7 linked regions of the Homo sapiens genome follow. The protein of the gene in region 7 interacts with the protein of the main gene of each other region in a pairwise test. Each region holds a gene or a part of one and is shown on either strand. Other genes may lie near its edges.

What was found.
Region 1: the proteins of FAM9A (region 7) and STIP1 interact in binary tests that used the Homo sapiens proteins (3 or more experiments, as listed by UniProt).
Region 2: the proteins of FAM9A (region 7) and SH3GLB1 interact in binary tests that used the Homo sapiens proteins (3 or more experiments, as listed by UniProt).
Region 3: the proteins of FAM9A (region 7) and HOMER1 interact in binary tests that used the Homo sapiens proteins (3 or more experiments, as listed by UniProt).
Region 4: the proteins of FAM9A (region 7) and ESRRA interact in binary tests that used the Homo sapiens proteins (3 or more experiments, as listed by UniProt).
Region 5: the proteins of FAM9A (region 7) and GTF2B interact in binary tests that used the Homo sapiens proteins (3 or more experiments, as listed by UniProt).
Region 6: the proteins of FAM9A (region 7) and TXLNA interact in binary tests that used the Homo sapiens proteins (3 or more experiments, as listed by UniProt).

Annotation. Positions count from the first base shown.
Region 1 is NC_000011.10:64,189,171-64,192,670, reverse strand, and holds part of STIP1 (stress-induced-phosphoprotein 1), read right to left. Parts: intron 1-3,500. UniProt on the Homo sapiens protein: Acts as a co-chaperone for HSP90AA1. Mediates the association of the molecular chaperones HSPA8/HSC70 and HSP90.
Region 2 is NC_000001.11:86,735,576-86,739,075, reverse strand, and holds part of SH3GLB1 (endophilin-B1), read right to left. Parts: intron 1-3,500. UniProt on the Homo sapiens protein: May be required for normal outer mitochondrial membrane dynamics. Required for coatomer-mediated retrograde transport in certain cells. May recruit other proteins to membranes with high curvature. May promote membrane fusion.
Region 3 is NC_000005.10:79,395,635-79,399,134, forward strand, and holds part of HOMER1 (homer protein homolog 1), read right to left. Parts: intron 2,004-3,500; coding exon 1,893-2,003; intron 1,270-1,892; coding exon 1,189-1,269; intron 1-1,188. UniProt on the Homo sapiens protein: Postsynaptic density scaffolding protein. Binds and cross-links cytoplasmic regions of GRM1, GRM5, ITPR1, DNM3, RYR1, RYR2, SHANK1 and SHANK3.
Region 4 is NC_000011.10:64,308,524-64,312,023, reverse strand, and holds part of ESRRA (steroid hormone receptor ERR1), read right to left. Parts: intron 1-3,500. UniProt on the Homo sapiens protein: Binds to an ERR-alpha response element (ERRE) containing a single consensus half-site, 5'-TNAAGGTCA-3'. Can bind to the medium-chain acyl coenzyme A dehydrogenase (MCAD) response element NRRE-1 and may act as an important regulator of MCAD promoter.
Region 5 is NC_000001.11:88,864,068-88,867,567, reverse strand, and holds part of GTF2B (transcription initiation factor IIB), read left to right. Parts: intron 1-3,453; coding exon 3,454-3,500. UniProt on the Homo sapiens protein: General transcription factor that plays a role in transcription initiation by RNA polymerase II (Pol II). Involved in the pre-initiation complex (PIC) formation and Pol II recruitment at promoter DNA.
Region 6 is NC_000001.11:32,189,675-32,193,174, forward strand, and holds part of TXLNA (alpha-taxilin), read left to right. Parts: intron 1-380; coding exon 381-575; intron 576-2,636; coding exon 2,637-2,756; intron 2,757-2,982; coding exon 2,983-3,057; intron 3,058-3,500. UniProt on the Homo sapiens protein: May be involved in intracellular vesicle traffic and potentially in calcium-dependent exocytosis in neuroendocrine cells.
Region 7 is NC_000023.11:8,791,384-8,794,883, forward strand, and holds part of FAM9A (protein FAM9A), read right to left. Parts: intron 2,374-3,500; coding exon 2,275-2,373; intron 1-2,274.

The sequences.
Region 1 (3,500 bases), on a different chromosome or scaffold from region 7:
CGGAGTGGCACTGATACATGCTCCAGTGACCCAAAGGCTGTGGGATGGCAGCGGAGACTTCTCTTTCTTGGGAGCGGCAAGATGCTTGCCTATGGCATAGTTGTCATCTCCTCCCATCAGGGAAGAACCAGTCTCCATTTCCTGGTGTGGCAACATGTCACCACAGGATAGATAAATGTTCATTAATGGGTAACAGTCAAGCTAGCTCCCCAAATTGATTCCTGCCATTCTTAAATATTACATTACAAAGGGGATGGAGGATGAAGAAATGCTACTGTGGTTTAAACCTCTCCCTTCTCAAACATATAAAGTGCAAGAAGTAAGGATACAGCGGGGTTTTGTTTTGTTGTGTTTTTTGAGACAGAGTCTCACTCTGTCACCCAGGCTGGAGTGCAGTGGCACGATCTCGGCTCACTGCAACCTCCGCCTCCCAGGTTCAAGCGATTCTCCTGCCTCAGCCTCCCAAGTAGCTGGGACTACAGGCGCACACCCCCACACTTGGCTAATTTTTGTAATTTTAGTAGAGACGGGGTTTCACCATATTGGTCAGGCTGGTCTTAAAACTCCTGACCTCAGGTGATCCACACGCCTTGGCCTCCCAAAGTGCTGGGATTACAGGTGTGAGCCACCGCGCCCGGTGGGATACAGCAGTTTTAAAAAGTGAGGCAGCTCTGCCTGGCCGCCCCACCGACTGGGAAGTGAGGAGCGCCTCTGCCCGGCCACCCAACTGACTGGGGAGAGAGGAGCACCTCTGCCCACCTGCCCCACCGTCTGGCAAGTGAGGTGTGCCTCTGTTGGGCCACTGTGCAACCCTCCAAGTGTGAAGTGACAGCCTTGTGTGTGATCTTTCTGCCCTCCCCAAGTTTGCATTTTCCACATTAAATTTTACTTTTTCATTAAAAAAAAAAAAAAAGTGAGGCAGGCCTTGGCCCTGTCAGAACAGTGTCCTCACTAAAGGGTTTCTCCTTACTGAGCTGCCCCACAAAAGGTCAGGTGCCCCACAGCAGCCTACCTGAGGGCAGGCAACCCCTTGAGAAGCTCATTGTATTTATTATTATTATTTTTTGAGACAGAGTCTTGCTCTGTCCCCAGACTGGAGTGTAGTGGCACAATCTTGCCTCACGGCAACCTCCGCCTCCTAGGTTCAAGCGATTCTCCTGCCTCAGCCTCCTGAGTAGCTGGGATTACAGTCACCCGCCACCACGCCCAGCTAATTTTTGTATTTTTAGTAGAGATGGAGTTTCACCATGTTGGCCAGGCTGGTCTCGAACTCCTGACCTCTTAATCCACCCATCTCAGCCTCCCAAAGTGCTGGGATTACAGGCGTGAGCCACCGCGCCTGGCCATATTTATTTTTTTTTAAAGATGGCATCTCACTCTGTTACCAGCCTGGAGTGCAGTGGCATGATCACAGCTGACTGTAACCTTGAGCTCCTGGGCTCAAGCAATCCTCCTGACTCAGCCCTTTTTTTTTTTTTTTTTTGAGACAGAGTTTCACTCTGGTTGCCCAGGCTGGAGTGCAATAGCACAATCTTGCCTCACCACAACCTCTGCCTCCCAGGTTCAAGCGATTCTCCTGCCTCAGCCTCCTGAGTAGCTGGGATTACAGACACGCACTACCACATCCGTCTAATTTTGTATTTTTAGTAGAGACGGGGTTTCTCCATGTTGGTCAGGCTGGTCTTGAACTCCTGGCCTCAGGTGATCTGCCTGCCTTGGCCTCCCAAAGTGCTGGGATTACTGGTATGAGCCACTGCGCCCGGCCAACTCAGCCTTTTAAGTAGCTGGGACTACAAGTGTGTGTCACCATGCCTGGCTAAATGTTTTTTTCTTTTTGTGGTAGAAATGGTGTCTCACCATATTGCCCAGGCTTGTCTCAAACTCTTGGCCTAAAGCAACCCTCCTGCCTCAGTCTCCCAAAGGTGAACCACCACACCAGGCCAAAATACACTTTTAAGAGGTAAACGTTCTGTGAGATAGAGTTGTCACCGAAGTTACTAACTCATTCTATGTATTATCCACCCACGACCCAGTAAATTGATGCAAGAAATAGTTTTGTCAAGAGAAATGATTTTAGGCTGTAATCTCAGCACTTTGGGAAGCTGAGGCGGGTAGATTAACTGAGGTCAGGAGTTCGAGACCAGCCTGGCCAACATGGTGAAACCCCGTCTCTACTACAAATACAAAAATTAGCTGCTGCCGGGTGCAGTGGCTCACGCCTGTAATCCCAGCACTTTGGGAGGCCAAGGTGGGCAGATCACCTGAGGTCAGGAGTTCGAGACCAGCCTCAACATGGAGAAACCCCGTCTCTACTAAAAATACAAAAAAAATTAGCCGGGCGTGGTGGTGCATGCCTGTAATCCCAGCTACTTGGGAGGCTGAGGCAGGAAAATTGCTAGAACCTGGGAGGCGGAGGTTGCAGTAAGCTGAGATTGCGTCATTGCACTCCAGCCTGGGCAACAAGAGCGAAACTCAGTCTCAAAAAAATAAATAAATAAATAAATTGCCCGGATGTGGTGGTGCATGCCTGTAGTCCCAGCTACTCAGCAGGCTGAGGCAGGAGAATCATCTGAACCTGGGAGTCGGAGGCTGCAGTGAGCCGAGATTGCACCACTGCATTCTCACCTGGAGGACAGAGTGAGACTCTATTTGGAAAAAAAAAAAAAAGAGAGAAATGATTTTGGAATCCTCAAATAGAGAGATCAGGAACTTCCATCAATCAGAGACCTTACAGAGGCAAGGGCAGAAGGAACCTGCCAAATTAAGCAAACAAGGGATAAAAAATCCTAGAGCCCAAGATGGAGGCCAGAAGACGAAGAGTTAACAAAACTCAAGTGGTGTCAAGAGGCAGCTGGTGAAGTTCCTGCCTATGCTTTAGAAAAGCATTTTTCAAACAGAGTACTGATCAACAGTGGGTCAGGAAATCAATTTTGTAGGTCATGACCAGCATTTTAAGAGACCAAATGGGACAAAAAAATACCAGCACACAGTGCACATAACAGTAAATACTGTTTTGCTGAATGTGTTACATGGCTGTACGCCTGTGTTGGGTTAAATGTAAGAAGTGTATCATTGTGGGATTTGAAAGGCCCCTATTGAAAAAAAAAAGCCTGAACATTCAAAATCTGTCCAACTTTTTTTTTTTGGAGATGCAGTTTCGCTGTCATTCAGGCTGGAGGGCAGTGGCGCAATCTTGGCTCACTGCAACCTCGACCAGCCAGGTTCAAGCAATTGTCCTGCCTCAGCCTCCCACGTAGCTGGGACCACAGGCGCGCACCACAATGTCCGCTTATTTATTTATTTTTTTTTTTTGAGACGGAGTCTCGCTGTTACCCAGTCTGGAGTGCAGTGGCGCAATCTCGGCTCACTTCAAGGTCCGCCTCCCGGGTTCAAGCGATTCTCCTGCCTCAGCCTCCCAAGTAGCCGGGACTACAGGCGCGTGCCACCACATCCAGCTAATTTTTGTATTTTTAATAGAGACAGGGTTTCACCATATTGGC
Region 2 (3,500 bases), on a different chromosome or scaffold from region 7:
TAAAACTGGGCTTCTAATATAACTGACATACTTCCCAGACCTCCATCCCTGAAATCTTTGCCTCCTCTGGCATTCCCCATTTTAACTATCTACAACTCCCCATTCTTTCAGTTACTTAGGTCAAAAACTTGCAGATGGACGTGGTGGCTCACGCCTATAATCCCAGCACTTTGAGAGGCTGAGGCGGGCAGATAGCCTGAGGCCAGGAGTTCAAGACCAGCCTGGCTAACATGGTGAAACCCCTTTTCTACTAAAAATGCAAAAAATTAGCTGGGCATGGTGGCGCACACCTGTAATCCTAGCTACTTGGGAGGCTGAGGCAGGAGAATCTCTTGAACCCGGGAGGCAGAGGTTGCAGTGAGCCGAAGTTGCGCCATTGTACTCCACCTTGGACTGGAAGAGTGAAACTCTGTCTCTAAAACAAAACAAAACAAAACCTTGCAATAATTCTTGACCTCTTTGTGTCCAATATACATACAGTCTGTCAAGCAAATCCTTCTGGCTTTAAGTCTAAAATACACCCACAGTCACGCCTGTAATCCCAGCACTTTGGGAGGCCGAGGCGGGCAGATCACAAGGTCAGGAGATCGAGACCATCCTGGCTAACACGGTGAAACCCTGTCTCTACTAAAAATACAAAAAATTAGCTGGGTGTGGTGGTGGGTGCCTGTAGTCCCCGCTACTCGGGTGGCTGAGGCAGGAGAATGGCATAAACCCAGATGGAGGAGCTTGCAGTGAGCCGAGATTGCGCCACTGCACTCCAGCCTGGGCAACAGAGCAAGACTCTGTCTCAAAAAAACAAAACAAAACAAAACAAAACAAACAAACAAAAAACAAACAACACCCACAGGCCCACAGGACCTGACCACTTCCATCCTACCTACCACAATTACCCTGATCCAAGCCACTGCCATCTTCTGACTGAATTACTGACTACATTATTGCAATAAGTTTGAAACAGATCAGTCAGCTTCCACCCAACACCTATCCTCAACGTGGCAGCCAGAATGATTCTGTTAAAGCCTAAAATTATGTCACTCTTCAGCTCAAAATTTCCAAAGGCGCCTCATCTCTGAGTAAAGACCAAAGTCGAAGCCCTATATGTTTTGGCTCCCCGTTTCCTCTACTCGTCTCTAGCCAAGCCCTCCTTGCTGTTCCTTGACCATACCAGCTATGTCATGCCCTCAGGGTTTTTGTACTTGCTGCACCCTCTACCTGGAGCATCTTCTCTCAGATGCCTGCATGTGTGCTTTCTCACGTCTTTCTCTACTCCCATCAAAGTAGTTTCCTGCTATATTTTCCGGTACACCATTTTCACCTTCTAATATACTATATAATTTATATACATATTGCTTTTCTGCTCCCTTCTGCCCCCATATAGAATGTAGATTCCAGGAAGGCAGGAATTTTGATTATTTTATTTATATACTATATCCCCCACATCTGGAACAGTACATTTTAAAAATGAAAAGCAAATGTTTCTCTGATGGATAAAGGGTGAAATAGTTTTAAATATAGCTTTTCCTCTCTAAAATTAAGACCACCTGTCCTAGTATCCTTTCCTCAGTGAACTCGGTTCTTCAGTAGGGATTAAATACATACATTTCTGAAGATAAGAAAAAGCTCTATTTATATGAATATGTATATACACATGGCTTTTTTAGTTCTCTAACCATATTTTACTTCCAAATCTACTAGTATGATTTTAGCCTTTGATTAGCCACTGAAGTGTACCTATGTCAATTTTGCAGAGTTAAAGATTTAAAAAATGAACTGAAAGGCCATTTTTACCTTCTAAGAACTTTTATTGATACGTTAAAAAATCATAGCAATTACTCATTCTATAAAAATGTCAATTAAGCCACTGGAGCTTGAAATGCAAAAGCCTTCCAATTATTAAAAAAATTGCTAATCTTGTGACTAGTACTTCTGCTTTCTCATCTTTAAAATATGGATAATAATAGTACCTACCTCATTTGGTGGTGAGGATTATAAAGTTAATAATACACATGAGGTGTCTGGAAGAGCACCTATGCACAACTTAAGCTCAACCAAAGTGATGGCTGTTATTCAGTTACTTCTACTACCTGTTGGTACTGTTATTGCAACTATTAACAATACAATCTGGTTCTCTTCTTCATAAATAGTTTTTGAATGTGTTAGTGTGAAGCTGGATGATTTGTCAAGTTCTATATTTGAATATTTCTATGTATTATCTTAAAAAGCATAACCTGCAACAAATTAAAGAGATAAAACTTCCTCCAATGTCATTGGTCATTAGCAATAATATAATTGAGGGTGGAGAGACAAGCTAGACTTTCTTTTCTAGAATAGTAGCACTGGTTTTACTTTGTATTGCTGGAGCTTATCTCAAAGAGCAGTAATAACGCAACAACTGGATTTTGTTTAAATGGCCAAGTCCTAAGCATAGTGTGGCTTTAAGTAGAATGCGAGTATAAGCAACCCCTATGCCGCACTTCCAGAGTTTCAGGATAAAGTGGAAAAAAGTACTAAGGCTTCTTGGGCTTAAAATAGTTATAATGATGTGAAGATAAAGTGCTGTTCTGCCTTGAGATATTAACACCACTAATAAAACCTCAAATATATAGTTATGTAAATGCTCCTGTATATTCTATTAAAATAACTAATGATTAGGCTACCATTCATTTTTGAGGTTCAAAATTGGTTTCATGGACGTGCTCAATTTTATTCTAGGCCAAGTTTTGAAGTGTTAATGTGCAGAAACAAACACCAAAGTGACTTTATTTACCTTATTCCTTGAAACGATTTTTTGATATTCATCCTTCAAATGCTACATATCGCTCCCCTGCTTTAATGGTTCCTCAATATATAAATTCCAAACTCCTTACAACAACTTACTTTAAAAGCCATTCATGGTATGACCCTGCTTAACTCCTCTAGATTCATCTACCATTCCATTCTTGAACACTATGCTCCAGCCTGAATGGACTACTATCAGTTCCCCGAACTTTCCCTACTCTCTTTCTTCTGGCTTTTTTATAAACATATTCTTCCTTGCTTAGAATATTCATCCCTGTCCCTTTCTTCATCTAGATTATTCCTACCAAGATAACTTCACCTGGGAAACTCTGCTAGATGTACCTCAGTCACAGTTAGATGCCTTCACAATACCAGGCACCTTCTGCTTTTCTGCCTACCACATGGCCTGTCTACCAACGGCTTGCTTTGTATTTCTACCTAGGCTAAGTGTTGTGAGAGCAGAGACCATGTTTGCCCTAAACATTATTTTATTTTCAGTGTCACCTTATAATGTGAGCTCCATAAAGGCAAGCATCTTTGCCTGTTTTGTTTGCTGATATTACCCCACAATATGTAACAGTGCTTGGCACATGGCAGATAGTCAATAAATACGTGATGAATGAGTGATTGAGCTTTGTGTTTTACATACTGTCATTTTGCTTTGAAGTATATTAACATACTCAAAATAATCACATCGGTAGATATGAGGTCTTACGAAA
Region 3 (3,500 bases), on a different chromosome or scaffold from region 7:
TGTTTATTTCATGAAGGATTATTATGAAGGGGTTTAAAGCCCATGTCTTTGACTACTAAAATAATGTATTTTGACCATTATCTTAGTGGTCAAAGATTTGGATTTTAAAATTTGACTGTCTCCATTTAAATATAGGTTGGACAAGTTAACCTCTCCAAGCTTCAGTTTCTTCATCTGGGTTATTATGACTGTTACATGGATTAAATGCATAATACAGGTAAAGTGCTAAGCCCAGTGTCCGATATGTTGCAAGCACTCAATAAATGTTGGCTGTTCTTATTATAATCTAGGTCCTCTTTCCAATCCTGGGCTTTCAGGTCCCTCTTATTATGCCTTATCTCAGATTCCTCACTCTATACATATACTTATTTCTACTCCAAAGTCATCCTAACCCTTCTTTATTGAGGCACCTAACGCTGAGGGTGTAAGAAAACTGCCTGAGCTGGCAAGAGAAGACTTTGGTAATAAATTCTGAGAAATCTTCCCTTACCATGTCTGACTATCACTGACACATGATGTTTTTTGTACACTGGAATCAGGAAGAATACTATTTATGCAGAAAAAAGTGAGTAAAATTAATTACACTGAAGAACGAAAAGTACTAACTTGTGTTCCATTAGGGCACAACTATTGGTATAATTCATACATTAGTACATTGTAAAATAATAATAATAATAATAATAATGTTCCCAAATTGAATGAAATCAATTTGCAAATTTTTCTTTAAATTCAGGGTTTTCTTTCTTTCTCTCTCTCTTTCTTTTTATTAAGACAGGATCCCACTCTGTTCCAGGCTGCAGTATAGTGGTGTGATTATGACTCATTGCAGCCTCAACCTCCTGGGCTCAAGTGATCCTCCTCCTCAGCATCCCAAAGTGCTGAAATTACAAGTATGAGCCACCATGCCCAAACCCAGAGTATTTTTTTTTAATTAAAAGTAGAAATTTCCAAAAGGATTTACTAAATAATTTACAATTTATAAATGACCATCTATGATAATTATAAGCTACATAGATGAAGTTATCAAGTAACTTTTTAAAAATCAAAGATTAGGCATGAATCAGAAGTCCCGGAAAAGAAAAATGACCAAAAACCTACAAAATGGAGTCTCAGAAAAAAAGTCAGTGCTATGTGAAAAAATGATGCCTTTCTATGCAGAAGTGAATAACAATTTTTACTACAGCTCACCTGTAGTTTCTGAGTCAAAGAATCCCTCTGTTCTTGTAGTTCTCTGGCATTATCAATTTCTTGTTTTAACCTTTCTATTTCCTAGAAAAGACAGAGCAATGTCTTAACATTCAAACTATATCAAGGCAAGGGAAGGTCTTGTTTTTCCCTGAAATTATTGTTCTAGTTCTTAGAAAAAGATGATTTTAAAAACATTCCTTCATATTGACTTTTAGAGGGATGAATTCATCTTTATATGTATGTTGTCTAGAACAATAATCTTAAGCAACAGCAACAAGTCTAACTTGGTGCTTCTGGTACAGCAATGCTTAGAAATAACAACCTGAACATTTTAATGTTGCTTCAAGCTTTGTGGATATAATTCTTTCCTAAGATATTAAAGTTTTGACTGGAACCCAGAGAAACCAACAGCTTTTAAAATCCATTTAACCCCTAATGATTTTCTGTTGACTGTATAAATGCAACTCTCATCTGGAAGGCAACAGGTGGTATCTCGGTCTGACTGCCTCACCACAGTTCATAATAACAGAAATAAGGATAGAGAAAATATGAGCAAGCTTAATACCACTCAAGAAAAATTTCATCCTAAAAAAGAGGTCACAACCTGACTTTATTCCATAAAATACTTTTAAATTTGACATGGAATCTAATACTTTGTACAAACATGTTAGCTAGATTACAGATGAGTAAAAAGCAGCAAATACCTCTTCCTTCAGTTTCAGTGTCTCTTCCAGTTCTTGTATTGTCTGATTTAATTCTGTCTTATGAGTATGTACTGCATTTGCTTGGCTACTAACACATTCAAGTTCAGTCACCTAAAATTAAATGAGAACACAGATTAACTTAAATTTCAACTTTAAAGAGTTTCTTGCTAAATACATAGCCCCAAATAAGTGAATAGTATATTCTGAATAAATATATAAAAATTAATTTTGAGAAATATTAAGACACTCAAGGTAGAGTGAATAGATTCTTCAAAGATATAAAACTAGGAAAAGGGAAAAATAATCATTTACATGGCTTAGTCATAGAAAGGTTAGGATAACTTAAATTAAGTGATTAATGACAGTAGAGAATCCCTATAATGAAAGTCTTCTGTAAAAATTTCTTCCAAAAACATATTCAAGATCAGATATGACCATCTGTCCTTCATCTGTAGCCTTCAAATTCAATATGGGTTCTGAAAACTGGCCTTGCAGAAGTGAGAATTTTTTCAAATACATTTCCAACATGTAAGAGAATCTGGAAGAGAAAATAGGCTTAAAATACAACTTAAATCATTAGATACTGGAATGACTTTACATCAACAGTGTCTCTTACGGGTAAGATAAAATTTTGTTAGTCAATAAGAATTTACTGGGGGCCCAAAGAGTAATATAACTTTTAATGAGCACTTGGTATTTTTTGAGAGAACAGAGAGGGGCACTGTCCTTCAAGTTATACCATCTAAAACTAGAATCAGCAATAGACAGAAGTCAATATAAATACACACACACACACACACACACATGCACACACACACCCTATCACAGTTCTTTACATATATCATGTGCTCATAAAATTTTGGTTTACTAGAAGATAGTAAATTCTAGACTATTAAAGAAACAGAGTAAATCCCTCTCCCTGGCATTTTCCAAATATCAAATTACCCTCTACATTCTGTGATTCTCTCTCTTATATAATTTTCTTCCTTTCTTCTCATGTACTAATAGCCTCGTTACAAACCCTTATCATCCAGACCTGAACAAAACCAACAGCCTCCCAGTGGACTTAATTATAATCTTTTTTTTGTCTATTCTGCAAATTGCTAAGATTCATCTTTCATTCCTGTGATTCCACCATTCAAAGACTTTCAGCAGCTCATCTTTTTTACGGTATCAGATCTAAACGCTCAGATCCTCTGTATATTGGCCCCAACCTTCTCAACCATCCACACTGCCCAAGATACTCAGTGAGTACTTCCAACTAAAAGCAGGCAAATCTCCTTGTCCTAAGAACAAGTGATATTCATTCCCAACTTGTTGATTTAACTAGAATGTCCTCTCTTGCCTCTGAAAACCACTCGGACCTAACCGAACCCTTAACTCTTAGCTCAGCATGTGCTTTCTCCAGAAAGCCATTCCTATCTGCTCAAGTCTTCAAGGCTCTCCTCTGGTTCACAAAACCAAGCATCTGTTCAAAAATCTTGGGAATTATTTCACTTATTGTTTAATGTGTATTTGTTTTGTCTCATTATATAATAAATTCCTTAAAGGGAGTTCCAATTCTGATAATGATGAAATAGTTTTTATTGGAGTAACTTTCCTATAGGT
Region 4 (3,500 bases), on a different chromosome or scaffold from region 7:
CTGGGCAACCAGAGCGAAACTCTGTACCAAAAAAAAAAAAAGGCCAGGCGCAGTGGCTCACGCCTATAATCCCAGCACTTTGGGAGGCCGAGGCAGGCAGATCACGAGGTGAGGAGTTTGAGACCAGCCTGACCAACACGGTGAAACCCTGTCTCTACTAAAAATACAAAAATTAGCTGGGCGTGTGCCTGTAGTCCCAGCTACTCGGGAGGCTGAGGGAGAACAATCGCTTGAACCTGGGAGGCGGAGGTTGCAGTAAGCTGAGATCGTGCCACTGTACTATAGCCTGGCAACAGAGTGAGACTCTGTCTAAAAAAAAAAAGAGGCCGGGAGCGTAATCCCAGCACTTTGGGAGGCCGAGGCGGGTGGATCACGAGGTCAGGAGATCGAGACCATCCTGGCTAACATGGTGAAACCCAGTCTCTACTAAAAATACCAAAATTAGCCGTGCGTGGTGCCATGCGCCTGTAATCCCAGCTATTGGGGAGGCTGAGGCAGGAGAATCGCTTGAACCCGGGAGGCGGAGCTTGCACTGAGCCGAGATCGCGCCACTGGACTCTAGCCTGGGCAACAAAGCGAGACTCCGTCTCAAAAAAAAAAAAAAAAAGACAAGCCCTCTGGAGCCTCAGAACCAGCACCTCCCCTTCCTGCACATACCACAGCGGTAATAAGACAAGTCTGTGCAACTCACTGTTGCCCAGCTCTCCCCTCTGCCAGGATGTAAACTGCCTGAGGGCAGAAACAGCCCTGCTTCAGCCCCAGCTATGTCCCCAAGGCCTGGAACACTGGCCAGGACAGCAAAGAACAGGTCTGTGCCGAACAGGGACTCTGGCTACCACATACCTTTATGACCTTGGGCAAGTCCCATACCTAACCCCTTGAACCCTCAGTTTCCCAGCTGTAAAAGTGCCCCACAGAGTTGGGTCGTGAGAATTAAAGGGGATAATATGGTCAAAACATCCAGCATGGTTCATGACACCTAAGTGCTCAATATACAAGTCCTATTCACAGCCAGCACACAATAAATATTTGTCAATAGTCAACATACAGTGAGGGGCCCCAGGGTAGGTAGGAGATACCCGCACCCTGGCCGGCTGGCTCACTGTTCTTCAGAGTGGGAAGGGTGCACAAAGTTTAAGATTGGTGGATTTTGGCCAAGTTAAAACTTGCTGGATTGGCGGGGTGCAGTGGCTCACACCTATAATCCCAGCACTTTGGAAGCCCGAGGAGGGCAGATCGCCTGAGGTCAGGAGTTTGAGGCCAGCCTGGCCAACATGGTGAAACCCCATCCCTACTAAAAACACAAAAATTAGCCGGGCATGGTGGCAGGCGCCTGTAATCCCAGCTACTTGGGAGGCTGAGGCAGGTGAATGGCTTGAACCCGGGAGGCAGAGGTTGCAGTGAACCACGACTGCAGGCCGTTGCACTCCAGCCTGGACAACAAGAGCAAAACTCCATCTCAAAAAAAAAAAAAAAAAAAAAAAAAACCTGGCCAGGAGCAGTGGCTCACGCCTGTAATCCCAGCACTTTGGGAGTCCAAGGCAGGTGGATCTCGAGGTCAGGAAATCAAGACCATCTTGGCTAACACGCTGAAACCCCGTCTCTACTAAAAGTACAAAAAATTAGCCAGGCGTGGTGGCGGGCACCTGTAGTCCCAGCTACTCAGGAGGCTGAGGCAGGAGAATGGTGTGAACCCGGGAGGCGGAGCTTGCAGTGAGCCGAGATCGTGCCACTGCACTCCAGCCTGGGCGACCACACGAGACTGTCTCAAAAAAAAAAAAAAAAACGTGCTGGAATGTCACAATCAGTCATTCAGCGTCTGTCCAAAGTTCGGTGTTATTAGTAATAAGCAGAGGAAGCAGTCTAACATTGAAGAGCTCAGCTCTGGACCTATACTGACCCAAGTTCAAATCTTGGTTCTGCCATTTCCTAGTTGTGAGACTTCAACAAAGTTTCAAATGCCTCTCTTAGTTTCAGTTATAACAGTACTGACACCTTATAGGGTTGCTGTGGGGACTAACTGAGATCATAAAAGAATACAGTGCCTAGCACAAGGTAAGCACTCAAGATTTTTTTTTTTTTTTTTTTTTTGATACGAACTCTCACTCTGTCACCCAGGCTGGGAGTGCAGTGGCACGATCTTGGCTAACTCCAACCTCTGCCTCCTGGGTTCCAGCAATTCTCCTGCCTCAGCCTCCTGAGTAGCTGGGACTACAGGCACCCACCACGACACCTGGCTAATTTTTGTATTTCTAGTACAGACAGGGTTTCACCATGTTGGCCAGGCTGGTCTCGAACTCCTGACCTTGTGATCCTCCCATCTTAGCCTCCGAAAGTGCTGAGATTACAGGTGTGAGCCACCACACTTGGCCTTTTTTTTTTTTTTTTTAATTATACGTGTTATAGCCCCCAAAGTAACCAATGGTTACATAAAAGCAGAAATAACGGAAATAATAGGCCCTTCCCAGGCAATGCTTAATGTCAGCATCTTGCTCATTCCCCCAAATTCTGATAAGCTTTCCTGAGTGAGAAAAAAATTAGTGACTTTTAAGAGCAGACATGCCTGTAAGTCCTTTTTTTTTTTTTTTTGAGATGAGAGTGTCTCATTCTGTTGCCCAGACTAGAGTGCTGTGGCATGATCTCAGCTCACTGCAACCTCTGCCTCCCGGGTTCAAGCAATTCTCCTGCCTCAGCCTCCCAAGTAGTGGGATTACAGGCACTCACCACCACGCCCGGCTAATTTTTGTATTTTTAGTAGAGACGGGGTTTTACCATGTTGGCCAGGCTGGTCTCGAACTCCTGACCTCGTGATCCGTCTGCCTCAGCCTCCCAAAGTGCTGGGATTACAGGCCATGAGCCACCAAGCCCAGCGTTTTTGGGTTTTTTTGTTTTTGTTTTTGTTTTTGTTTTTTGAGGTGGAGTTTCACTTTTGTTGCGCAGGCTAGAGTGCAATGGCGCGATCTGGGCTCATTGCAACCTCTGCCTCCCAGGTTCAAGCAATTCTCCTGTCTCAGCCTCTTGAGTGGGATGACAGGCGCATGCCACCATGCTTGGCTAATTTTTGTATTTTCAGTAGAGACGGGGTTTCATCACATTGGTCAGGCTGGTCTCAAACTCCTGACCTCAGGTGATCCGCCCGTCTCGGCCTCCCAAAGTGCTGGGATTACAGGCATGAGCCACCGCGCCCAGCCTTTTTTTTTTTTTTTTTGAGACGGAGTCTCACTCTGTCGCCCAGGCTGGAGTGCAGTGGCGTGATCTTGGCTCACTGCAACCTCCGCCTCCTGGGTTCACGCCATTCTCCTGCCTCAGCCTCCCAAGTAGCTGGGATTACAGGCGCCCGCCACCATGCCCAGCTAATTTTTTGTATTTTTAGTAGAGACAGTGTTTCACCGTGTTAGCCAGGATGTTCTCAATCTCCTGACCTCATGATCCGCCCGCCTCGGCCTCCCAAAGTGCTGGGATTACATGAGCCACAGTGCCCGGCCTTTTTTTTTTTTTTT
Region 5 (3,500 bases), on a different chromosome or scaffold from region 7:
ACATTTGTTGATTTTTTTTAGCTTAAAATTTAGTAACTCTGGGTTTGAAGGCCACGGTTATTTTTGTTCTATGCATGTTTGTGTTTTTATTTTGCCAAATAGGAAAGTTAGATTGTCTTTTCTGTCTTTGGACATAAGTGCATGGGAACACCATGGTATCACTTTAATTGGTGGATGCTATTAAAGGGACTAAATTCTGTCTAAAAATACCATGCTGGTGTTTATGATAAATTTAATGAAAAGAGCTTGTCATGAAACAGGCACAGTATCTAAATTTTAGGAAAACGTAGGTGCATACATATGAACGAAAAACACAGAGCATATATGAAAATATAGTGGTCATTGGGTATTGGGAATGCAGGTAATTTTTTTCTAACGTATCTTTTAGTGAGCAAATATTTTGTAAAAAGGAAGAAAAATTGATCTCTTTAGTGTGATCTCTTTGAGACATGGGCTTGTTGGTGAATAGTACTCACTGCACAGTGGTTTGGTAAGGTTTCAGTGCACAATGACAATTTATGATACTTTTAAGTATCTTTTTAAAATCTGCATAATTCAAACTGCTTCCTAAGTTTAGTGATGTTTATTATGAGGAAGAGGAAACAGATAAATCCTTGTAATGCCATCCATCTAACGCTTTTCTCCTTGTTTCGGGCCACCTGCTCAATGTGTGATGTATTAAAATTGCCTTCTAACTTACTGTCCTGCTTCTGCCTTCCTTGCGTGTTCTCCTTGCATACAGGGATGGCACATGGGAACTCTGCCTCTAATCTCAATCCCTTTGTAATGTGGACACATGGTAGTCCAACTGATAATCCGCTTTTACCTTGGTGATTCAGTTGTTTAAAGAAAAGTTTTTCTGTTGTGCATGGTGGCCCACCCCTGTAATCCCAGCACTTGGGGAGGCCGAGGTGAGTGGATCACTTGAGCCTAGGGGTTCACGACTAGCCTGGGCAACATGGCAAAACCCCATCTCTACAAGAAATACAAAAATTAGCCAGGCAGGCAGTGGTGGTGCATATCTGTAGCTGCTCAGGAGGCTAAGGTGGAAGTATTGCTTGAGCCCCAGAGGCAAAAGCTGCAGTGAGCCAAAATTGCACCACTGTACTCAAACCTGGGCAACAGAGTGAGACCCTGTCTGAAAAAAAGGAAAAGAAAAAAGAAAAATTTTGTCAGAGGCTTCAGAAATGAATCATTCTCTTGAGCATTTGCTTACTTTAGACAGGGTCTCCCTCACCTAGGCTGGAGTGCAGTGGTGTAATCATGGCTCCCTGCAGCCTCAACCTCCTGGGCTCAGGTGATCCTCCCACCTCAGCCTCCCTACAGGCACATGCCACCACGCCCAGCTAATTTGTTTTTGTATTTTTTTGTAGAGACAGGGTTTCACCATGTTGCCCAGGCTGGTCTTGAACTCCTGGGCTCATGTGATTTTCCTGCTTAAGCCTCCCAAAGTGCTAAGATTACAGGTGTGAACCACCATGCCCAGCCTTTTTTTAAATCTATCACTAAGATTATATGATCACTATACTCTGGTTGTTTATGAGCATTTAAATTAATTTTTATATAAAAAATTAAAAAGTTAGCATAGTCTAGGTGGAATTCCTTCCGTTTTCTCTGTTCTTTGCTGTCCTCCTGATCAAATACTTAGCGGAGCACTTGGAAGCTTTTAAAGTCTTCTATGGAGATTAATTTTTGTTTGTTTGTTTGTTTTGTTTTGTTTTTTTTTTGAGATGGAGTTTCACTCTTGTTACCCTCTTGTTGCGATCTCAGTTCACCACAGCCTCCACCTCCCAGGTTCAAGCAGTTCTCCTGCCTTAGCCTCCTGAGTAGCTGGGATTACAGGCATGTGCCACCACGCCCAGCTATTTTGTATTTTTAGTAGAGACAGGGTTTCTCCATGTTGGTCAGGCTGATCTCAAATTCCCAACCAGGTGACAGCCCGCCTGGACCTCGCAAAGTGCTGGGATTACAGGCATGTGCCACCATGACCAACTAATTTTGTATTTTTAGTAGAGACGGGGTTTCTCCATCTTGGTCAGGCTGGTCTCAAACTCCTGACCTCAGGTGATCCGCCTGCCTCGGCCTCCCAAAGTGCTGGGATTACAGGCCTGAGCCACCACACCCGGCTGGAGATTAATGTTTTAAACTGATGCGTCTCCCTTATCATCCCCACAAAAAAGGAGAAACTCAGAATATTTGCTATCTTTCTAATTTTCATAGCAGTAAATAGTGAATATTGAGCACTTAGTACTACTTTTTAAGCACTTTACATGCACTGTACATGGGTATTATAATAGCTTAGTCTTTATAATCTTTAAAATATGAGGTTAAAGAGAATTTTAGAGCTGAGGTAATAAAGACATAGAAATGAAGTAATATTCCAAGGCTAAGCAGCAAAGGGCAGAGTTCACACCCCTGACTATTATATTAATTGACTGCTAGTACCGTAACTTCTAATTGCTACAGTAACTGGTTTCTGCCGTTTGTTTCTTTCTGTTTGCTGTGTATACACAAAGATGAAATGGTCTGGTTCCTTCCTACTTTCAGCTTCATCACACTTCACTGAAAAAGGTCATGTTTTACAATTGGAGTGTAGAACAAACTCTGATGTGCGTTTCAGTTCTAGCTATGTGATCTTAGGCTAGTTAATCTTATTTGTAAAGTGGCAATAAAATTGGTACCTACCTTTATAAGGCTGTGAAGATTAAGTGAGAACATTTACAAAAGGGCACAGTGAGTAGTATGTGTTAAGTATTCAGTGTTAACTTTTGTCTACTCTGAAGGTATTGCCAGACATTGAGCTTTCTCACCAAAACAGTAATAATAAGGTTTACTTGTGTCTGCTTTTATTGGACATGATATATTTAGATGCTGCCTCTTTGCTTAAAGAGAAAAGTTTGCCTACCAGGCTTTCTTCTCACGGATTCTAGGCTTGAGGTTTATTCTGTATAAATTATTTGGCCAGGTATGTTTTTCATCAGATTGTTACTTTGAAACAGAAGCTTAGGCTTATTTTCTGCGAAGCATTTCCCACGCAAACTTAGTGACATTTTAATATGAAATTATTTGCATTAATACCATTCTAAAAAATGTTTTCTCTTTTTTTCCCATGCCTATTGCAAATTTTGTGCAAAATCTGGTTCTTAATCATTATTACATTGGTTTACCTTTGCATCACATATGAATAGCTGTACTTTGCTACTTTTGACTAATACTTTTTCTTCCAAGAGTTAGAATATCATAGCATAATGTTTCAAGAGGATTATTGTTAGATTGGCACAATAGTTAAAGGAATGCTTTAGGACAAATGTCTGAAATGTGATATTTAAGCTTGGTCCTAGATGTCCATGTTGAGATTTCCTGGGAATAAAATGGCTTAGTTGGGCATTGGACAGTGTAGTTAAGTAAACCCTATCTTGACAAAATGATTCAGATATGTGCTTATATTCTTAGGTGACCGGGTTATTGATGTGGGATCTGAATGGCGAACTTTCAGCAAT
Region 6 (3,500 bases), on a different chromosome or scaffold from region 7:
GCTGGGACCACAGGTGCACACCATCACGCCGGCTAATTTTTGTATTTTAGTAGAAACGGGGTTTCACCATATTGGCCAGGCTGGTCTCAAACTCCTGACCTCGTGATCCGCCCACCTCAGCCTCCCAAAGTGCTGGGATTACAGGCGTGAGCCACCGCGCCTGCCATGTGCCTGCATTTTTCTAGGGGGAGAATCTCACTTGATGTCACCTGATATACAGAGGGGCCCATTGGAACCCGCATTGCACAACATCCTGGAGTCTGGCTACTCCACGCTTTGGGAGCAGGGAGGGCTGTTGGCAGAGACCATCTGTGGACTAGCTGGGGGACCCTTGTGAGGTAGCAGTGGATGATGGCTCTCGGGCTGACTTCTTTGCCCAGGAAGAAGGTGTGCAGCGGGCCCGGGAGGAGGAGGAGAAGCGCAAGGAGGTGACCTCGCACTTCCAGGTGACACTGAATGACATTCAGCTGCAGATGGAACAGCACAATGAGCGCAACTCCAAGCTGCGCCAAGAGAACATGGAGCTGGCTGAGAGGCTCAAGAAGCTGATTGAGCAGTATGAGCTGCGCGAGGAGGTAAGGGTATCACGGACAGCAGTCATGGCCCAGAAATTGTGAGGTTTTGAGTGTGTGCTAGGCACTGGGACAGTACCTTTTCAGGCTTCATCCCATTCTCCCTTTCTTCCTCCTCCTCCTCCTTGGGAGGAGAGTAATGTTATTCCTCATAGATAAAAAACAGGTGTGGAGAAGAGACTCACTTACAGCCACACAGCCCCAGGTCCACAGTGCCTTGTCCCAAATGACTGGGCCAGGCATCTTTTGGAATTAGAACTATCCACATTTTAGAATGGAGGTACATGTATGGACTGTGTGTTATATAGCACCCTCAGCAGGGCCTTGGGGAAGCCAGACACATTAATGTATTTATGCAGTAGAACTTCCAAATACTCACCTACATTATGGGCTTACAATGATGCAGGTCAAGTCTGGCTGCCAGCTTATGACAATTTCCATTTTCAGAACTTTGTAGAATTTGGAATTGCAGGGGAGGGGTGTACCTGTGATCAGTGATGGACTCCAGAGACTGTGTCCACTGATTCCTTGCTGCTCCTGCCACTCAAAAGGCAGAATTTATCAGGCTGGGCGTGGTGGCTCATGCCTGTAATCCCAACACTTTGGGAGGCCAAAGCGGGCGGATCACCTGAGGTCAGGAGTTCAAGACCAGCCTGGCCAACATGGTGAAACCCTGTCTCTACTAAAAATACAAAAAATTAGCCAGGTGTGGTGGTGCACGGCTGTAGTCCCAGCTACTCAGGAGGCTGAGGCAGGAGAATTGCTTGAACCCAGGAGGCAGAGGTTGCAATGAGCCAAGATTGTGCTACTGCACTCTAGCCTGGGTGATATACCGAGACTCCATCTCAAAAAAAAAAAAAAAAAAAAGCAGGATGTCACTCCCTTTGTCACTGCGTTGGCTGCCACCCCAGGCACTTGAATCTTTGGATCTTCCCTGCCAGTCACCTGGCTGTTCTGGGCGCGTTCTCATCATGAGAAGGGAGACCTGCAGCCCCCTTACAGGGCTGGCAGAGGACCTGCTCTGGATTAGGCCCTTTCCTAGCCCCTGGGGTGTGGCAGTGGGTGAGACCGGGAAGATCTGCCCTCTTAGGTTCATAGGCCAAAGTGATGATCGTGTGTGCAGGACCTAGAGGGCGCTCCCCTGACCCACCCCTTTCCTTGCCATACTTCATCCTCTGGGAACAAAGCTGCTTGTTTGGTTTGAGGGGAGTTGGTTTGGTTCTTATCCCTCAGCGCTGAGACATAGAGGCTTCCTGGGCCACTACAGTGAGACACGAACTTCAAGAATCTGAATACCCCCGTTTTCTCTCCCCGCCAAGGCAAAAAAGGACTTAGTACTACCTGTGGAGAAGGAGGTGCAGGACTACCAGGCCCTGCTGCTTTGCATTTACAGCCCTCCCCAGACAGACACAGGCACCCTCATCATACCCAAACTGGACTTACCTGCTAGGCACCTTCCCTTCCCCATCCAAAAAAATGGAGTTATTTTCCCTTATTTCAGCAAGTCCAGTTGATTTTACCTTTGAAGTAGCACCTGAGTCCTTCACCTTCTCTCCATCCCTTCTCTCTCACCTGACACAGGTCTGCAGCGCTCCTCTAGTAGGCAGGACAGCCATTCCTTGGGGATGCACATGTCTAGTCTTTGCCTAGATATGGCAAGTCTTTGCCAACTGAGCTAGGCTGTTATGTTCTTAGAGGCATTGTTTTTGCCCATTCTTCCCATTTACAAGAGAATCAGGGACACAGAAGTGAGGGCTTCCAGCCCCATAGGTGATCAATCCTGGGGTCAGAGATTTGAGTGTGTTTATTGCTTGCCTTCTTGGGAGCAGATTCCATCCATAAACCATGTGCTTACCAAGGTCTGACTCACTGGGAGAGAAACGACGTGAGGTTGGAAAGCTGACCTTCCAGAGACTTGGGGCCCATGTTGTGTGGTACACATGGGAGTCCATCATATCAGATTGAGATGGGGGGCTGGGCAAAGTGCCCTGGTCTGTGGCTGTGGGGCTACCCTGAGAAAGGGAGCGCCTGACAAGCCGACTGCTCCCACCATCTTTGTTGCAGCATATCGACAAAGTCTTCAAACACAAGGACCTACAACAGCAGCTGGTGGATGCCAAGCTCCAGCAGGCCCAGGAGATGCTAAAGGAGGCAGAAGAGCGGCACCAGCGGGAGAAGGATTTTGTGAGGCTCAGGCCCCAGGGTTGGGGTGGGGGTGGGAGGAGACAGGCTGGGCTCTGGCTCAGCTCATAGCCGGGTTATATGGGAGAAGTCTGGCCAGACCAGGCACAGATTCCTTGAGTACCAGTCTGAGAGCAGGAAGCCTCAGTGGGTCTGGTGCTTGTGGCTAAAAACCAAACATAGCCCCTGGGGGCTTCTGACAGGATCTGGGGTTCTGTCTTGGAAATAGCTCCTGAAAGAGGCAGTAGAGTCCCAGAGGATGTGTGAGCTGATGAAGCAGCAAGAGACCCACCTGAAGCAACAGGTGAGAGCATATAACCTGACCCTGTGCCTTCAAGTTTCCCTCACTGGGCCCCATCCTGGGGGTAGTGAAATGGGACCCTCATTCTAGGACTGGCTGTGTCCTGGCTGCTATGACGCCTTGGTTGAGCCTTTGTTCTCTCCGGACCTGCACAGTACCTATGTGGTGGTGACCAGGTAGTTAGGTGGGCTCAGAGGACTTCATTTGTAGCTCAGAAATGTATTGCTTTTGAGGAGGTAGGAACAGAAGAGTTTGAAAATCAACATAAAGGCAAAATAAAAGTCACCCTAAGTCTCCTACTTTCCAGGCTTAGCATTTTGGATTATATCCTTCCAAATATATAGCTTTGCTTTGTTTTAAGGAAAAATAGTATCTCAATAGAATTACTGGTCAGAGAGTCAAGGACGGGTCTGAGTGTGTTGACCAGAGTGCCTCCCAGAGAAACC
Region 7 (3,500 bases):
AAGAAAAAGTCTAGTTCACTGACAAACCACCACTTTACATCTCACGTTTTAAACAGGGTTAATCAGATGTCAAAAGGAAACAGCTTTTAATATTCAAAGGATGCTGGTTATTTATTTCAATTTGAAAAAAACTGTAACCAATACATGGAGCTCCAAATACCCACTTAAATTTTTTAATGCCAGATTTCAGTGAAATATTATTTTAGCAGGTCCAATTGTCATGTACTTTGCTTGAATAAAATGGGTTGATGAGCATCTTAAGGTCAAGATGGAGCAAAGACAGAAAAAGTCAGGCAGGCTTACCATGAAATATATTTTTTCAGCAGGTAGTGACCCATGTATTATCAGCAATAGTCTACGGAAAGTGGTTTCCATTGAAGGGATAAAATGGTTGGTGATATGACCTCATCAAGTTAGAGAAAAATGTAACTATGTTTGAAATATATACTATTCCCTCAACAAATAGTTCAACAGTTCCTACTCCTGAAAATGGTGTATGTTAATGCTAAGGAAGATGTAAAAAATGTAAGCACAATCTCTTCCATAATCCTGTGACATGAGCAAATGCACAAATAAAAAAAATTAATACAAAAATTGTATAACTGCTATGGAAGGGCAACTCACTCAGACATGTAGCCAAAAATGGAGACGTATGTTGACTTAGTTGGCAAAAGGTTTAAATTGGTCTTAGTCAAAAAAAAATTTTTTTAAAGCATTGTGAGGGAAGAGCATGAGAAAAGCATAAGAGTAACAGTGAATTCCTTCAGGGAAAGCTGTCAACCTGGATAGGCAGGAGCAAAGACAGAGGGCGGCAAGCCTAAGAGGGGGTCATGTAAAGGGGAGAGTCTCTGAATATCTAAGAACTGAGACGGGGCATCACTGACAGGCTGGGAAGAGGGAAGGGCTAGGAAGCATTTTAGGAAGGGGAGGGTTTTAGGAAGATAATATTGCCGATCAATGAAGGATGGCTCAGAAGAGAAGAGAGAACTCAGAAAAGAGTTTAATAGTACAAGCAAGGAAGAATGAGGTCTTGAACTAGGGCAGCTGCGGTGGGAATTTTAAAAAAAGAAATTTAAGGGCCATTACAGAGGTAAAACTTGCCTCATGATAACTGCATGGGAAGGATAAGGGACTTAGAAGAGTCCAAGATGATAGCAAAGTTCCTACCCTAAGTGGTAACATGTAGCATTAACATTGACAGGAAAACTTCTAGTCTCATGTTCATACCAATTAATAAATGGTTTCTGGTGAACATTATAGCAACATTTTCTCTACTTGTGACTTCTATTTAAATAACTGTTTTGTGTATAGATCATTCTCAAGTTGCTTGAAAATTTTATTTTCAAACTCTTTTCTCAGTTTATTTAACACATCTCAGTTAGTGTAGAGGAGTGACATATGAACATGTCTTTTCACAAGGTTATTAAAAAGAATACCTTACCTCCCAGAAGGGAATTCCATTGTTACCTAAATAATGTACATCTACATGAAGAAGAGGTCATTGATGACAATTTGCTAATGTGCTATACGACAGCAGATAATTCACAATTCACAACGTGTTAATAATTTGCTGGCTTTCCCATTCTGTTATACATCTGAACCATCTCTTATGACTACAAATTGTCATGTAAAACCATTACTAGTCGCTGATAATTTTGAAAGTGAATATGCCATAAAACACTCCTGTATTACAGCAGGAAATAAAAGAGACACTCAGTAGTTACACTTGCCTACTTCCTATTTAACTAAAACTCTTGAAACAACACAAGTAAAAAAGACATCCAGAAAGGATTTATGGTCTTCCTGCCTTCCACCATAGATGTGTCATTGATGTCCTGAAAACTGAAAATAAAATCTTCATTAAAACCCATTTATGCCTAGTGTTCCATTATTGGAACGCTAAGCTTGTGGGAATCATGTATCTCCTACCGCTCAAGAACATAGCCAAGGTCTGTTTCTTCACACACAAAAAATGTGCAGCCTCCGGCATAAATGTGTCAATGCGTTAACAATATACACAAGATGTATATTTCCAGGTAAAATTTCCAATTTACCTTTTCCTGTTCTAAATAACTCCCACAAAACTATTCACGAATCCTAAAAATACATTTACCAGTTATGTTAAATTTGGAACAATACATTCAAAGTGAAAATGGTAAGTAATTTAAAATGCATAACCAAAATGTCTTTCCATACATTCGGAAACAAACAGACTTTCTTCTGTTATGCACGTGTTGTATTTTATAATGTATTATGTTACCAAATAGAACAGACCTTTAGTAATTGCTCAAGTAGCGGCTTCATCTCTCTCAGCCTCCAGCTCCTAACACCTGTAGGTTGTTGCCACCTCTTCTGTTTTTCTTGAAATGCTTTCTAGAAGCACAAAAAAATAGTGATGAAAATTGGGTAATTTTTAATACTTACAAAACATAATTCTGCATTAGCTTTATAGGAATACTCTTTAAATCTATACTTCTTAACACTTTCTTTTAAACAATGTTTATGACCAATTTTAAACAACTGTGTTCACCACCCATATGCTAAAATGATATAATAACCTTTTTCATCAGTGATTAAGGAATTTTCTTTCTTCTACATACATAATCAACACATATGTCTTAATTCTTGATTTTGAATGTAGAGTATTTGACGACCCTTCCTATAATTTGTTGACCACAGATGGGTAAGATATATACAGAAATTAACTAAGAAACATTCTTTCTTACTAAGATTTTAAACAGGTAATAAATCTTGGTCATTTCAGTATGCACACGGATGAACCTTCCAATAATGATTGCCTTTCTGCACCTTGACCTAATCTCCAACAACAGTGTTCTCCTCTCCTCTACGTGGCACTCACTTATACAGTCATCCCCTAGATTTTATCATTCCCAATGACTGCAACATCTACATAATATTAATAATAGCAATGATAAAGAGCAATCATGGGTCAGATCACATCCTGAAAAATTTAAATAAACCCATTACACAGGAACCTTTCAATCCTCCAAATAACTCTGACATAAGTTCTCTTACCGTGTCTCCTTTTGCAGATAAGGAAATTTCGGCACAGAGATAAATAATTTGCCCATGGTTCCCGAGCTAGCAATCGTCAAGCTGGAGTTGAATTACAAGCAGTGGGGCTGCAGTGTCCCAGCCCTTGACCACTGCACTCAGCTGTTTCTCCATCTTCCCAACATACAGCCACTACCTTCCTGCCACTGTAGGTCACTCACTTCAGTACTACAGCTCAGGAGTCTGTTGAGACCCGACACCCACTGAATGGAACACTTTTCACTGCCCATTGCCCACCCCCATGTGCTCAGGTAACTCAGTCCCAGCTGAAATTCCACAGCCAGTCATCATATCCCCATCCCTGCATCTATGCCCTGCCCAACTCTCCTTCTATCAACGTGCGCAGCTACACCCCAACCCAGGAAATTCCAACCCTACAGCTGCTTTTGCACAAATATGCCAACCGGGCTCACTTTAACTTCTTT